Homo sapiens: one gene and its partners. The protein of the gene in region 2 purifies or fractionates together with the protein of the main gene of each other region. This does not show direct contact. Each region holds a gene or a part of one and is shown on either strand. Other genes may lie near its edges.

Evidence for each region.
Region 1: the proteins of DROSHA (region 2) and USP36 purify together in Homo sapiens (affinity purification with western blotting; one study listed by BioGRID). This does not show direct contact.
Region 3: the proteins of DROSHA (region 2) and SMAD5 purify together in Homo sapiens (co-immunoprecipitation; one study listed by IntAct). This does not show direct contact.
Region 4: the proteins of DROSHA (region 2) and YLPM1 purify together in Homo sapiens (affinity purification with mass spectrometry, with the first as the bait; one large-scale study listed by BioGRID). This does not show direct contact.

Annotation. Positions count from the first base shown.
Region 1 is NC_000017.11:78,813,315-78,816,814, reverse strand, and holds part of USP36 (ubiquitin carboxyl-terminal hydrolase 36), read left to right. Parts: intron 1-2,262; coding exon 2,263-2,403; intron 2,404-2,941; coding exon 2,942-3,042; intron 3,043-3,500. UniProt on the Homo sapiens protein: Deubiquitinase essential for the regulation of nucleolar structure and function. Required for cell and organism viability.
Region 2 is NC_000005.10:31,525,594-31,529,093, forward strand, and holds part of DROSHA (ribonuclease 3), read right to left. Parts: 5' UTR 3,467-3,500; coding exon 3,447-3,466; intron 1,320-3,446; coding exon 486-1,319; intron 1-485. UniProt on the Homo sapiens protein: Ribonuclease III double-stranded (ds) RNA-specific endoribonuclease that is involved in the initial step of microRNA (miRNA) biogenesis.
Region 3 is NC_000005.10:136,149,845-136,153,344, reverse strand, and holds part of SMAD5 (mothers against decapentaplegic homolog 5), read right to left. Parts: intron 671-3,500; exon of another isoform or gene 587-670; intron 1-586. UniProt on the Homo sapiens protein: Transcriptional regulator that plays a role in various cellular processes including embryonic development, cell differentiation, angiogenesis and tissue homeostasis.
Region 4 is NC_000014.9:74,761,821-74,766,115, reverse strand, and holds the start of YLPM1 (YLP motif-containing protein 1), read right to left. Parts: upstream 2,801-4,295; 5' UTR 2,627-2,800; coding exon 1,754-2,626; intron 1-1,753. UniProt on the Homo sapiens protein: Plays a role in the reduction of telomerase activity during differentiation of embryonic stem cells by binding to the core promoter of TERT and controlling its down-regulation.

The DNA of each region.
Region 1 (3,500 bases), on a different chromosome or scaffold from region 2:
TCAACAAATCCCACAACTCAGTTTAAAAAAATGATTTAGGCTGGGCACAATGGCTCACAACTCTAATGTCAGCACTTAGGGAGGCTGAGGTGGGAGGATTGCTTGAGACTGGGAGTTTAAGACCAGCTTGGGCAACATAGTGAGACCCTGTCTCTACAAAAAAATTTTGGTTTTTTTGTTTTTTTTTTTGAGACGGAGTCTTACTCTGTCACCCAGGCTAGAGTGCAGTGGCACCATCTCAGCTCACTGCAATATCTGCCTCCCAAGTTCAAGCGATTCTCCTGCCTCAGCCTCCCAAGTAGCTGGGACCACAAATGTGTGCCACCATGCTTGGCTAAATTTTGTATTTTTAGTAGAGACGGGGTTCCACCATGTTGGCCAGGCTGGTCTTGAACTCCTGACCTCAAGTGATCCACCCACCTCGGCCTCCCAAAGTGTTGGGATTATAGGTGTGAGCCATCATGCCCGGCCTAAAAAATTTTTATTAATTGGCCAGTCATGGTGGCGCGTGCCTATAGTCCCAGCTACTTGGGAGGTAGAGATAGGAGGATTGCTTGAGTCCAGGAGTTTGAAGTTACAGTGAGCTATGAATGTACCACTGCACTCTAGCCTGGGTGACAGAGCGAGACTGTGTTTCTTAAAAAAAAAAAAAAAAATTATGCGTATGTTTTTCGGAGTTCCTAAACACACGTCTGTATATGACCCAGAATAATGGCAATCCTGTCATGTGGGCTCTGTGCTGTCCTGGTGCACTCAGCCTACAGCTGCCATGCCAGGCACTATTACTGCTAAGAATATATGTGTGTGCATGTATGTATATATGTGTGTGCACGTATTATATGTGTGTGTATGTATATGTGTGTGCATGCATGTGTGTATATGTGTGTGTATGTGTGCGTATGCATGTGTGCGTGCATGTATGTGTTGTGCATGTATGTATATGCGTACATGTGTATGCATGCATATGTGTGTGTGTATGTATATATGTGTGCATGTGTGTATACGATGTATGTATGCATGTATGTATATATGTGTGCATGTATTTTATGCGTGCATGTATGCATATATGTATGCATGTTATGTATATGTGTGCGTGTATTTTTTTCTATGAAAAATTGGTCAGTTTTGGGAAGACATTTTAGCATGACCTTTCTTCTGATCCAGTTGATTAAAAGTCTTACTTGCGGTAGCAGTTGGCTATATTAATTCAGCACTTTTATTTCTGAAGATCTAAAACCCAGCATTCTCTCCCTTTTCTCCCACCAACAATGTTCCTGTAAAGTGGAGGGAAAGAAAATGAGTGACCCTTCTCATTTGATCGTTAGGAACCAGGTGGTGAGAGAACTAATGGAGATGCTTGACAAAGACAAGAACAGATCCTGCATTGCTTGATGGGACAATAAAGTTTCCCATAGGCTGGCTGGAGAAGACTCACTTCTCAGCATCTTGGTGTTTTTTCTTTGTTTGTTTGTTTTGATTGTTTTGAGATGGAGTCTCGCTCTGTTGCGAGGCTGGAGTGCAGTGGTATGATCTCGGCTCACTGTAACCTCCACCTCCTGGTTTCAAGCGATTCTCCTGCCTCAGCCTCCTGAGTAGCTGGAACTACAGGCACGTGCCACCACGCCTGGCTAATTTTTGTATTTTTAGTAGAGACAAGGTTTCGCCATCTTGGCCACGATGGTCTCAATCTCTTGACCTTGTGATCTACCCGCCTCGGCCTCCCAAAGTGCTGGGATTACAGGCGTGAGCCACCGCACCTGGCCAGCATCTTGGTTTTTAATCATTGCCTGGGGGAGCTCCTGCACAGCGTTGCTGCACACCCATTCGCCCCAAATTGTCTTTTTCTTGTTTGTGGCGGGGCAGTTTTGAGACAGTCTCGCTCTGTCGCCCAGGCTGAGTGCAGTGGCTCGATCTCGGCTCACTGCAACCTCTGCCTCGCGGGTTCAAGTGATTCTTGTTCCTCAGCCTCCTGAGTAGCTGGGATTACAGGCAGTGCACCACCATGCCCAGCTAATTTTTTGTATTTTTATTAGAAGTGGGGTTTCGCTATATTGGTCAGGCTGATCTCGAACTCCTCGAGGTGATCCCCCTGCCTCAGCCTCCCAAAGTGCTGGGATTACAGGCGTGAGCCACTGTGCCCGGCCCCCAAATTGTTAAAGACCAGACAAGCTGGGCATTTTGTGTGGTTGTGGATGGAAAGGGCAAATTGATCTTTACTCTCAAAGTGAATTTTATTTGTCTTTTCCTTGATTTTTCAAACAGGATGTAGGCTATCCGGAATTCCTCAACATACGTCCGTATATGTCCCAGAATAATGGTGATCCTGTCATGTATGGACTCTATGCTGTCCTGGTGCACTCGGGCTACAGCTGCCATGCCGGGCACTATTACTGCTACGTGAAGGTGAGAGGCTTGTGTCAGTGCAGCTGCCTCCTGGGACAGGTTTCAGCACCCATGCACATCCAGATGCGGCCTCTGTAGAGCACTTACTTTGTGAAAAGTGTGATGTTTTGTGGTTGTATTCAAGTCCTCGTTGTTGCCTCTCTGCGTGGAGTGAAAAGATGCCCTTTACAGAAGTGTTGCACCAGAATCTAGTGTTCTCAGACTTGCAGGGAGACACGGAAGAGGCAGCCGCTTCTGGTGCCATCCTTAGAACCCTGGCAAAATCGGCCATGGTGATGACACTGCCTGAATGTCCTTTAGAAGGGACAGTTCCTATCTGTTGGGGCACTAGGAAGGAACTGGGACGCAGAGCACACTTTGGGGTCACATTCCGAGTTATGAAAATATTACACGTTTTAATAGAAGTTGTTACCTGTTGATTATTAATAGTGTTTGGAAATGTAGCAACTAACAGATTTTTTATTCCCTTTTTAAAAAGTGAGGATAATGGGATGCTTGTTGATTGTTTTGTTTTCTGCAACATCCTTGGCTGCTTCAGGCAAGCAATGGACAGTGGTACCAGATGAATGATTCCTTGGTCCATTCCAGCAACGTCAAGGTGGTTCTGAACCAGCAGGCCTACGTGCTGTTCTATCTGCGGTAATAAACTCACGCCCTCCCCAGATGAGCTCACTCCCTCTGCTCTTTTCTTATACCGGTGGGCCTCCCTAACCTTTTTTTGTTTGAAGGTAATTGGGAATTCCACTGGAGGGATTTGTCATGTGTCATAGAGACCGTCCACAGGGAAGGACACTTTTTAGTAAAGCCAGAGCCTTGGGAAGGTCAGGACAGGATCCCATCTGCCCTCACATTGATGCTGTTTTGAATGTAAACAGGAAAGTCACCATTTATAGTATTGCCCCAAATTAGAGGTACTGCTCCCTGGATGGTAGCCAGCCAATGCCCCTTCCCGTGTGGGGAAGCTGCCCCTGTAGGGATATGCTGGGAAGGACGTGTTTGTGGGGGTGCTGCTGCAGAGCTTCTCTGGAGGGGCCTTCTCCTGGAGCTGGCTGTCACTGACCTGGAGGCTGGAGACCGTGGCAGCTGAGGCATTTTTG
Region 2 (3,500 bases):
CAAGAAGGCAACAATGTACAATAAATTTCTACTTATCCTAAAACTCAGAAAGTCCTTCCTGTTAACTAATTTGATTCTTTATTAACACGCAGATCGCCAGTTCCAAAAAAACTCAAATGCTATAACCTGATATGATGATCACATTGAACATAATTTAATCTATGATAACACAAAAAATACAAGATCTTTCATCTCATGGGATCATCATTAAAATGTCAACTGTATTATGCAGAGTAAAAGTCTTATATTCACTGAAATGAATCTACACTGATATATTTGGAATGCTTTTTAAAAGCAATTTTTTTCTGACATCAACTTATTTGTCAGTTGTTTCTTCCTCTTGAAAACAGAGTCCAAAATGTGCTTCCTTTCCTTACATAAATCAAGATGCCCTACTGGATCCTTTTGGTTTGGTTGTCATAAATGGAGAATGACCGTGCCTGGGCCTCTGCAGTTCATTAAAGAACTACACACAAGCGGTTTACCTGCTCCGTTCGTAGCTGCGGTGGCGAGATGGTGTTCTCCCTCGGTCATAATCAGATCTGTACCGGCTGTCTTGTCTTCTCCTGTCGGGACTGCGGCCTCGCTCCCGCCGATCCAGGGACCGATGCCTCTCACCTCGCCCATGACTGTGATCTCGGTGCCTGTGGTCATCATAGTGTTTCAGCCTTTCTGGGGACCTTCTCTCACTGGGAGCCTTTGGGAGTGGGTATGGAGGGAGATGTCTGAAATGAGGACTACTGCTGTTATTAGCACTGGGCAGGAAAGAACTAGGGTTGTTCTGGAAACTATTAAAACTGGGAGGTGGGAAGTTGTGGTGAGAATAGCCCGGAGGGTACTGATAATTAACCTGCTGCGGCATGACTGGAGGGGGCGGGGGATGAGGCATGGAGGGAGGGGGCATCATGAAGGGGAAAGTGCCTTGTCCAGGAGGTGCCCCAGGGACTGGGGGGTTATTAGGACAAGGCATTGGTGGTGGCATGGGAGGAAAACAAGGAGGAACTGGGAAGGGGTGCCTCATCTGGTGGTTGGGGAAAGGCGGCCTGATTGGGCAGGGGGGAAGAGGGCCTTGCGCTGACGGAGGCATGGGTGGGGGGAAGGGTACAAAGTCTGGTCGTGGAGGGAGAAAATTGGGGGCTGGAGAGTTTGAGAAAGTGGTGGAAGGGGCACTTGGAGGTTCATATTGATATTGCACAGGAGGCTGCTGAGGGTGAAGCAGCCTCAGATTTTGGGGCCTAAAGGATGGTGCTGAGGGTCTGGCTCCATGTCCTCCTCGTCCTCGGGGACACCCTCGTCCCGGGTGGAACGACATTCTGTGACTTCATGGCAGAAAAGAAAAAGGGAAAAGTTTTTTTAAAAAATAATTCTTACTATGTAAACAGGGTTTCATAAATGCCTGACCATCTTGATGAGCAACTCAAAGACCCCCTAGTCAAGCCACTGGAATAGGCCACCCATTTAATACTGGGTTCCTGCTAACATCTGAAACCCTCATGCTCAATAAACTCCTCTTCCCCTTTCTTGGCCACCCAGCCCACTGCCATGTTTAGTCCCTGGACCGACCATTCCTTAAAGCTGCTCCACTTCCAAAATGACCAATTCAACATCCCATTGTTCACCATTTGCTGTCATGCCTTTGCTCAAGTTCCCCTCTGATCTTGACCTCACAAGATCAAGGGGGCTTGCCTCCCCAGCCCCCACTCCCATCTCCAAATGCAGATTTGGGATTACCACCCCCCCTCTGCAATCCTCCACCTCTCCCTGATACCAGACCCTTCACATCAGCATTTGAAAGTGCTCAGGTCTATTCCAACATAAAGTACTTTCCTTGGCCTCCAGGTCTCCCTTGACTTTGCCCCTTCTTTGTCCTCCCCTTTACAGTCAAATGACCTGAAAACGTTGCTACAGACCGAATGTTTGTGTCCATCCCAAAATTCCTGCTGATGAAATCATAACGCTGATGTGATGCTATATGGAAGTGGGGACTCTGAGAGGTAATTATGATGGGATTAGTACCCTTATGAAGAGAGAAAGAGAAAAGAAATCCCTGCCACCCACCCCTTACCAGGTGAGACTACAACAAGAAGGCAGCCACCTGCAAGGCAGGAGGAGGGCATGCATCAGAAACCTGGCTGTGCTGGTACCCTGATCTCAGACTGCCAGCCTCCAGAACTGTGAGAAATAAATGTTTACTGTTTAAGTTACCCAGTCTATAGCATTTAGTCATGGCAGCCCAAGCTAAGACAAAAGTGTATATACTTCTAACTCACTCTAATCCGACTTCAGCTTCCACCACCTCTCCAATAAGTGACATGATCAGTGCCCACCTTGTCTTGAAAACCAAAGGTCATTTTCAATCACCTTGCTTGATCTCTGTGCAGCAATCAGTCCAGTTGCCTCCCCAGCCCCCACCCCCATGGATGCGTTTCTTGGCTTCCTGACATGATGCCTTCACTGTGGCCTTCCTACTTCTCTGGCTGTTCCTCCTGGCAGTCTCCCATACCAGCTTCTTCTCTGCTAGGGGGCCTTTAACCGTCTGGTATTCCTCAGGGGTCTAGCCCAGGCACTCTGCTCACTCTCTCTTCCAAAGTGATGCTACTCACCTGCACTGCTTCAATTGACATCAATCTGTCAGAAACTCCCAAGTTACACCTTTAGCCCACAACTTCTGAGCTCCAGACCCACACTGCCAATTACCAACCCCATCTCTCTCCTTGAGTGTCTCACTGACCTGGACCAACAAATTCAACATAACATATGCTAAAAGGAATTAATGACCTTGCCCTCCAAGACAAACATTTGCTCTTTTCCTAGTATTTCCTATCTCAATAAATGACACCATTAATAGTCCTTAAGACATGTAACAGGGAATCATCTGACTTGTCCTCCCTCACCCCCCATCCTTAGCTAAAAATTTACTTTAAAATTGCTGTCACTTATATGGCAACTATCCCTTAATAAAAAATAAACAAAAAATCCAATTGTTTCTGCTTCATAAATATTTCCTGAATTCATCTACTTCACATCATCACCTCTTACATGGCTATTATAATAATATCCTTGCTGGCCTTTCTACAACCACTGTCACTGACCCTAGGGCTTTGTTAGGTTCCTTGCTCTCACAACACTCTGTGCTGCTTCTTAGCAGGTCCTACAATAATTACAATCCACCTTCTAAGGACCTAATTCCACCTTTAATGTCTGCCTGCACCTCGGAACTGCAAGCGCTGTCAGGGCAGCGCTCTGGGATTTCTATTAACTGTTCTGGTCTGGCTTCCCAGCCCTGGGCATGGCCCTCTATTGTATTGTGCCCACTGTTGAAAGAATGAGCACATTATCCCCTCTCCCCATGTATCTAAATCCTTTCCACCCTCTATAGCCCAGCACCAATGTCTGCTCCTCTCTCGGTTCTCCCAAACTATTGCCATTCCCATCACGGCACTCACCATGTGTTTCCCTGCATCATGATGTTCCGCCTGGATATGTCACATCTTCCACAG
Region 3 (3,500 bases), about 100 Mb from region 2:
GTATTATCCAAAAATAGCTTCTGGACTCCCTTTGATTAGGCCACTAAACCCTAAAACACTCTTCTAAAATTTGATTCTGAAGTACTTTTCTTCACTGAAATCCATGTTACATGCTATGTCAATTTTGAACGTGATTGTGTCCTGATCTGAATAGAAGTCTTAAAAGAAATCCAGCTCTTCTCTAAGGTCATTATTCTCTTTAAATGTTTCCCAGACTGAGAAGGTTTGGACAAAAATCATGATACTACTGAAGTCACATTATTAGATGCAAATTGTATTCACGGTTGTATAAGATGTACCAAACCCTCAAATAAATCATTATAACTGCCAGTAAAATGGCAAGTATCTATTTGTAAAACTAAGTATGTTGAATAAATTTAAAGAGAATAAATTCATTTTAAAAGGGTCAGTTTCTAATTTTATAATTCCTATCGGCTTATTTTAAGTGATATTTTATATTGGTTAATGAGCTTGCTCCAGGTAAACCACTGTTCTGCACCATTAAGAAGCTCCTGATGATGACAGGTGGAAGTGACAGGCACTCCACCGATAGAAGCTGGTAAAAACCAGGCTCAGTGGCACACACCTGTAATCCCAGTTATTCGGGAGACTCACTTGAGCCCAGGAGTTCAATCACGTCCAGTCTGAGCAACATAGTGAGATCCCATTTCTAAATAAAGAATAAAAAGAATGTGTAAGATCTCCTGCAGATCGCTGCACAGCCAACCACAGACGATAAATACCTACTAAAGTAACAAGAATAACGTTTGGAAAAATGGTGTAACAAAAGATGCTTCCTTTCTTGTGCCTACAATTGCCAAAAGCTATAGCTTTGTCTTTGAAAAATTCTAGCATCAATATTATTCTGGACTGGGGTGCATCTTTCCAGAAAAGAATGTATGTGCTCAGCTAAAGCCCAGACAATAACATAAAGTAAATAAAGATAATGTAAACACAGAGTAAAGTAAAACTGACATACACTCAACAAATAATTATTGATTCTTTGTTACATCCCATGTATTGTGAATAGCCATGATGGGGCTTTTTAAAAAAAGTTATGCCAAGTAGGGTTTAATCTCAACAGTCAATAAACTGATTCATTCAAAATACACTTACTGAGAGCCTACTAAAGTACCAGATACAGTTCTGGATGCCGATCAACTACTGGCAGCTATCCAGCCTTCTATGCTGGAACCATGGTGGGGAAGGGTACAGGGAAGTAAAGATATCCTCCTTATGTATGGATATGCCTTGTGCCTTGTCTTGCCCAGCCCTATGTAGGATGATTTTTCCTAGGCAAACAAAACTGGCCACATTAAAATAGAGAGATATAACAAAGAGAATGAAAGCATAATTGTCACTAACAGGTCACAGAGTATAAAGTGTTATGTACTAAATGAACTGTAAGAAGGGCTGACCTCAGTTGCATCTACATCAAGGATGTATGATAAAATCCATGTGGGTCAGGAAGTAAAACCATGGTTTGGTTGTCTGAGATGAGATGGGAAATGTCAAAGGCAAAGGCACACAAACAAAAAAATATATATATAGGCAGACATGAACATAGCATTTCCTAGGCTAGATAAGAGACAGGCCTGGCTGACTGATTCATGAACACTAGAATATAATGGGGGGCTAGATAGGGTAGTGTACGTATGTGTGAGAGAGTATGTGTATGAGCAACAGAGAGACAGTTAAGGAAGAGGGAGGCAAAAAGACAGGAGCTTCAAGACCAGAATTCTGAATACAATATCATACATGATCAGGCCCTTGGCTTCTCCTTACTCATTTCTTAACCATTATCCTACCTAATTGCATTTAACCACACTTAACTTCTTTCCATTTCTCAAGTATTCTAAGGTTATTTCTATGTGAGGTCTTTGCATCTGATGTTCTCTCCCCTAAATTCTCTTCTCCCGTAACTTAACGCAGCATACTCACTCAAATTAATTCAGTTGTTCAAAGGTCACCTCCTGAAAGAGGAATTCCCTGACCACTTGATTGAAAATAGCATGACAGCCCATTCTCACAACATTCTCTATCCCCTGACCCTGTTCATTTTTTATAGCATTTACCCTAATCTGATATTACATTATCAACTTTGTTTATTTACTTTGTTTTCCCCAATGCAATGTTAGTATGCAGGTAGTCTCGTCTGCCCTCAAAACCACTGGATGCCCTGGACCTAGAATAGTGTCCATTTATCAAATAAATGAGTAAGAAAAACAATTTGTAAAAATATATATACCTTTCTAAGGATGTCTATATCAAACTTAAAACAAAAAAATTGTTATTTATAGATATCTATGATATCAGAGAATAAAAATATGCCTGGAAATGAAACACACCAGACTCAGTCTCCCAAGTTGATGGCATTATAGGCTTGAGCCACTGTGCCCACCAGATTCTGTTCTTTACTAGTATCACTTTTTCAAAGCCTATTAACTTTTCTGTAAAATAGAGATGATGGTTCCTAAGTCACAGAAATATTAAAGTACTAATGTCTATCTAACACAAGCTTTACAAACTCAACAGTACTATTCAAACATGAATTCTAATCATTAGCATTCAGAAAGAAGACGAACCAAGACTTAAGAGACTGGCTAGATCTAGTCCTAATCTAATCTTGCCCATTACTCTTCCACTATACACACCTTCTGATCCAATCCAAATCCCTGCCCCTCTGCCCATCTGTGTCTTCCAAGAGAAATCTTAGTCATTCTTAATGATGAGCTCCAATCTATCCCCTTTTGTGAAGACTTCCTTTACCACCCAATGCTGAAGAGGCTATGGTCACTGAATATTTATAATAAAAACTAATTAATAAGTCATAAATAATATCATAACTTCCCAAATACAGTACAAAATCCTTCTAAGAAGTAGTCTTCAGCACCTGGACCATTGCATGTGCCATACCACACACTATGATACTTAATGAATGGTCACTGATTTTTCTACTAACTGTACCTTGAAATTAAGAGATAATTTCAAATTTTAAACCCACGTTGACTAAGATAATGATAAAATGAGAATTCTACCCACAGAATTAAAAACATTCAGAAGGCAGCTTTGTCAGTAGAAATGGTGGTAAACTCCACTGGGAAAAGGTCATGACTGGAGATACAGGTTTAGCCAGGTAAAGATGAGAAACAGATTTAAGATTTTGCACAAAGAGCTAAAAAAAAAAAGTTTGCAACAGAGTGAAAAGAACAGTAAGTAAACACCTAAATATTACGAAACATTCACTGTTAGGAAAGAGTTTCCTGATAGTGAGTTACTGATAATGCACTATTAAAAAGACAGAACTAGATACAATGGTACTGCAGAAGATTAAACATATGGGAGAGTTTAAAGAGAATGTAAACAAAGAAAAGGCCAGTGACTTTGGTGAATGGGTATGCCACTAAACTTCAAGAGATTGGTTTCAAAAAGAACAATAGGTGTCAGTTTTAAAAACCTAGAACTCTTACTAGTAAAACTAGCACAGGGAGAGGAGCAAA
Region 4 (4,295 bases), on a different chromosome or scaffold from region 2:
CCTGTCTGCAAGGGACTTACAATCTGAAGAACAGAACCAAACCAGATGGGTGAGCACAAGCAGGGCTTCATGGAAACCTTGATATTTGAGATATGCCTTGAAAGCAATACAACTCTAAGGGGAAACAGAGGGTTGAGGAGGTTAGGATGAATTCTAAAAAGAAGAAAGAAAGCCACAGGCTTCAAGGCTCTTCTTGATCTGGTCTATGTGCACCACAAGTCTCATTTTCCACCACTCTGCCTCTCACCAAAGAATTGCAGGCACTGAATATTCAAGACACTGAGTTCATTACAGAAAAGGGTACAAAGGCAGAAAAGTAAAAGCACTGTTCATGGTAACTATACATATTAAGGCCTGATCTGACACACACACTCCTCCCAAAAAAAGCCAAAAATACAATTATTTTGTCTCTCTGTAAGGTCAGAAAAACAGTCTAGTAGAGTGAGAATATAAATGTCCTATTTTGGCTCAGACTAACTGAGAATGTTTGACAACAAAAGCACTAAAGACTTCAGAGTGGGGTGGGAAAGAGGACAGAAAGTCTGTCTCTATAATAGAGCAATCTGGGGAAAATAAACTGGTGAGATGGTACAAATTTGATGTAAGCCAACAGAATCATTATTCTACTACTTTATTTCAGCATCCCAAGTGTTTTCTCCAGAAGATGTGCCAAGCATCATTTCTTAAAACAACTTGCTTCTGTTCTTAATTTCTAATGCCAAACCACCGTAAAATTATAATACTGCATCCCTATCTTTTGGAAATCTTTTATAGGTAAATCTGAGCGTTTATATTACAAGATTCTCTTTTTTCCTTAGTGAATCTAAGGTAAATTAGTAATCGCTGAAAAAGTGTCTACTTTAGGAAATCATAACAATTGATTTATTCTGCTTTAGTTTGACCTTCCCTCTCTCAAGGGGGAACTCGTTTATTACTGTTACCCTGTCAATTTGTCTGTTCTGCGGGATAAGAATGGCTGACTCTCTCATGAAAAGATATCACCAAACTTTTTTTACGTTGGCCAAATTGCAAGGCTGTTTCTTTGGAGTGAATGGTAATGACAATGAAACGCAGAAAATTGCTCATTATCTTAAAACAATCTTTAAATAATATGAGAAAAGGATGTCTGGGTCAATTCCTAAAATGGACCAATCGATCCCCAAAAGGGTCTCGGGACTCATCTATGTATTGTATATGTACCTATAAGCATAATTAGGATGCTCCTGGTAAGACAAGATTTCCATCCTTTTTCTGAAACCTCTTAATTCAGGAAGCTGACAACTATCCCTGGCCCCTAAGTAATATTTTTAAAAGAAGCTAACTAATCATAAAGTTTACAAACATTCAAGTGTCAGCCCTTGGCGAGGCCTCTTTTTCATGCTTTCTCTCAAATGGAAACTTTCGTTTAAAATACAATTTTAAAACAAGACCCTCTGCAACAAAATCTATTTGCAACAGCAACAAAATCTAAGAGGATGGTCAAAGAAACCAAGGAATGTATCTGAGAGGTAACTTTTGAGCCACCCCACCACTGTATGTAATCCATACACATCTACAAACGCTGTTTTTTTGGTAATTCACATCTAGCTAATTAAAAAGCTGAGCTGTCAGCCCTCTGACTCTTACGGAATCCTTTGGAGTGTTAGCTAGTCATTGTGTGTTGGAATTAGACTAACCACTGGTTAAAGCCCTGAGGCCTGCTCATTCAGGGCCCTCTAGGTGAAAGATGAGGTTCAGGCAGATGCTTTCTTACCTGTGGAGTCATCGTAGAGGGATCTGGCTCAGGGGCGGCTTGCTGCTGTTCAGTACTCTTGTTTTTGGCCCCACTCTCCAAAGGCTCTTGCTGGACAGTTGTCTTATTTCCAGGGGGGGCGGACGGTGGTGGTGGAGCTAGTAGTTGGGATTTAGAATGGCCCTGGGAGGGGCGGGAAGGAGATGCCTGAGAAGAGGGCAAGTAGGACTGGGAATGGCTCAAATAGGATTGCGAGGAAGAGGAGGAGGATGAGTAAGAAGGGGTGGGCGCCAGGTAGGATTGGGAAGGTGGGGACTGCGAAGGGGACGGCTGAGCAGGAGGCAGGTAGGGCTGAGATGAGGTCGGGGGGTAGTAAGAGGGTGGCGGCTGAGGTGGGGGCATGTAAGACTGAGATGGGGGCATATAGGACCCAGGCGGCACAGGGGGAGATTCAGGGGGGGATTCCAGCTCCATTGGAACCAAACCAGGAGGCCCGTCTCGTTGGTGGTGGAGCATCTGGTGTTTGTACTGCTGCTGCTTCTGATAGCTGAGGGCCGGCCCGGGTGGCGGGGGCATCGGTGGCGGTGGCGGCTGCCAGTCTCCGTAGCCGCCCCCCGGCATCACTGGCGGGGGCGGCAGAGGGGGCGGAGGAAGGTGGTGGGGCTGAAGCACGCACTGCATTTGCTTCTGGTGCATCTGCTGCAGCTGCTGGAGCTGCGCCAAGTGCTGTTCGCGGAAGCTCATGAAGCCCGAGGAGGAGGGGGCCGCGGGAGTCGTCGAGCTCGAGTACCCGGGCCCCGGCGAGGCCTCAGGAAGCGCCACTGGCGGCGGCGGTGGGACCGGTGGCGGCGGATAGTGGCTGCTCCCGCCATACCGGCCCCAATTCGGGTACATATCGAAAAAGAAGGCGCAGGGCTCGTCCTGGCGCCGTTACTCGTCGCAACCGACCTCCAGGAGCCGCGGCGGCGACGGCGACAGCCGGAACTCGCGGCGCCTACAGGCCCCGGAGCGTGTAAACGGAGCGCGCCAGTGCGCCGGCGCTCCCGAGCTGGGCCCGCGACCGGGAAGGCGGGGACGCGACTTGGGCGACTACGTCTGCGCAGTAACCACCGAGAGGAGAACAAAGGCGAGATAGAGCGGTCCTTTACTTGGCGACTCGTGGTTGCCATCTTCCTTTGGGTTCAGATAATGTAGGCTCCAGTAGAATGTTCTCATAGAACTGAAAAACCATAGAGTCTCACAGCCGAAAGAGGTGGTAGAGATCCTATCGCTCCACGGGTTCATTTTTGAATGAAAAAAAAAAAAGGTTCCATTCACAATAGCAACAATCGCAACAACAACAAAAAAACATAAAGCAACTAGGAAAAACTCTAACAAGAAAGATGTAGGACTTATATGTAGAAAGCTACAGAGTCATAAAGAAGCATATCCAAGTAGGATGAAATTAGACTTCAAATAATGGAGAGGCTTACCATGATCCTGGGTGAAAAGAGGAAAAATTGTAAAGATGTCAGTTTCTCCCAAATTAAATGAATAGACCTAACTCAATTCTCCCCAGAAATTCAACTGGGAACAAAGCTGTGAAGAATGGAAAGGTGTTTTCAAGGCAGAGTGTAAGATTACACCAATTCCTGCAGACATATAGTGAGTAACATCTGCAGGAATTGTAGAAGGGGAGAAATGGAATTTTTTAGACTGTCTCAACACATATAAATCGGTGTTGCAGAATCTCAGAGCAAAAGCAAAGAGAGCAAAAACCAGATACAAAGATGGTCTAAAGACAACCTGGAAGATAATCTTCCAAAAGCTCTCAACGTAATACCAGACATAAACTCTTACTTTAGCTTGAGTGAATCACTAAAAAGCAAAGCTAATACACTGAATTCTTTTGGGTGTGTGGGGGGGGGCGGGGGGAGGGAGAACTGTGAGAATATTGTGTCAGTGCATCACTTGAGTAACATGCAAATAATTGACCTTTCTTCCATCTTAGCAACCCAGATCTTCACCTCTCTCAGGAGGTGAATGTGAATGGAAAGTGGAGCAGCAAGGCATCCTTCAAAAGGAAGAGCTTCTGTTTTCAAATAGAAATTTAGTTATGTTTCTTTTAACTTTTTATTGAAGTATAACGAATATACAGAAAATTACATGTCAAAAGACAAAATTACAACAAATTTAGTTTAAAGATCTTAATTAACTTTTACCTGCTATTCTAGAATTGGGCAACGTCTCATTCTATAAAGCAGAAACAGTGTTCCAATGAGCAGAACAATCGGGATAATTTCATAGACAGAAAAGAAACGCAGAGGCAGGGCGCGGGGGCTCACTCCTGTAATCCCAACACTTTTGGGAGGCTGAGGCAGGCAGATCACCAGGTCAGGAGATCAAGACCAGCCTGGTCAACATGGTGAAACCCCATGCCTACTAAAAATACAAAAAGTATCCAGGCGTGGTGGTGCTCACCTGTAATCTCAGCTACTCAGGAGGCTGAGGCAGGAGAATCACTTGAACCCAGGAGGCAGAGGTTGGAGTGAGCTGAGATCGTGCCACTGCACTCCAGCCTGGG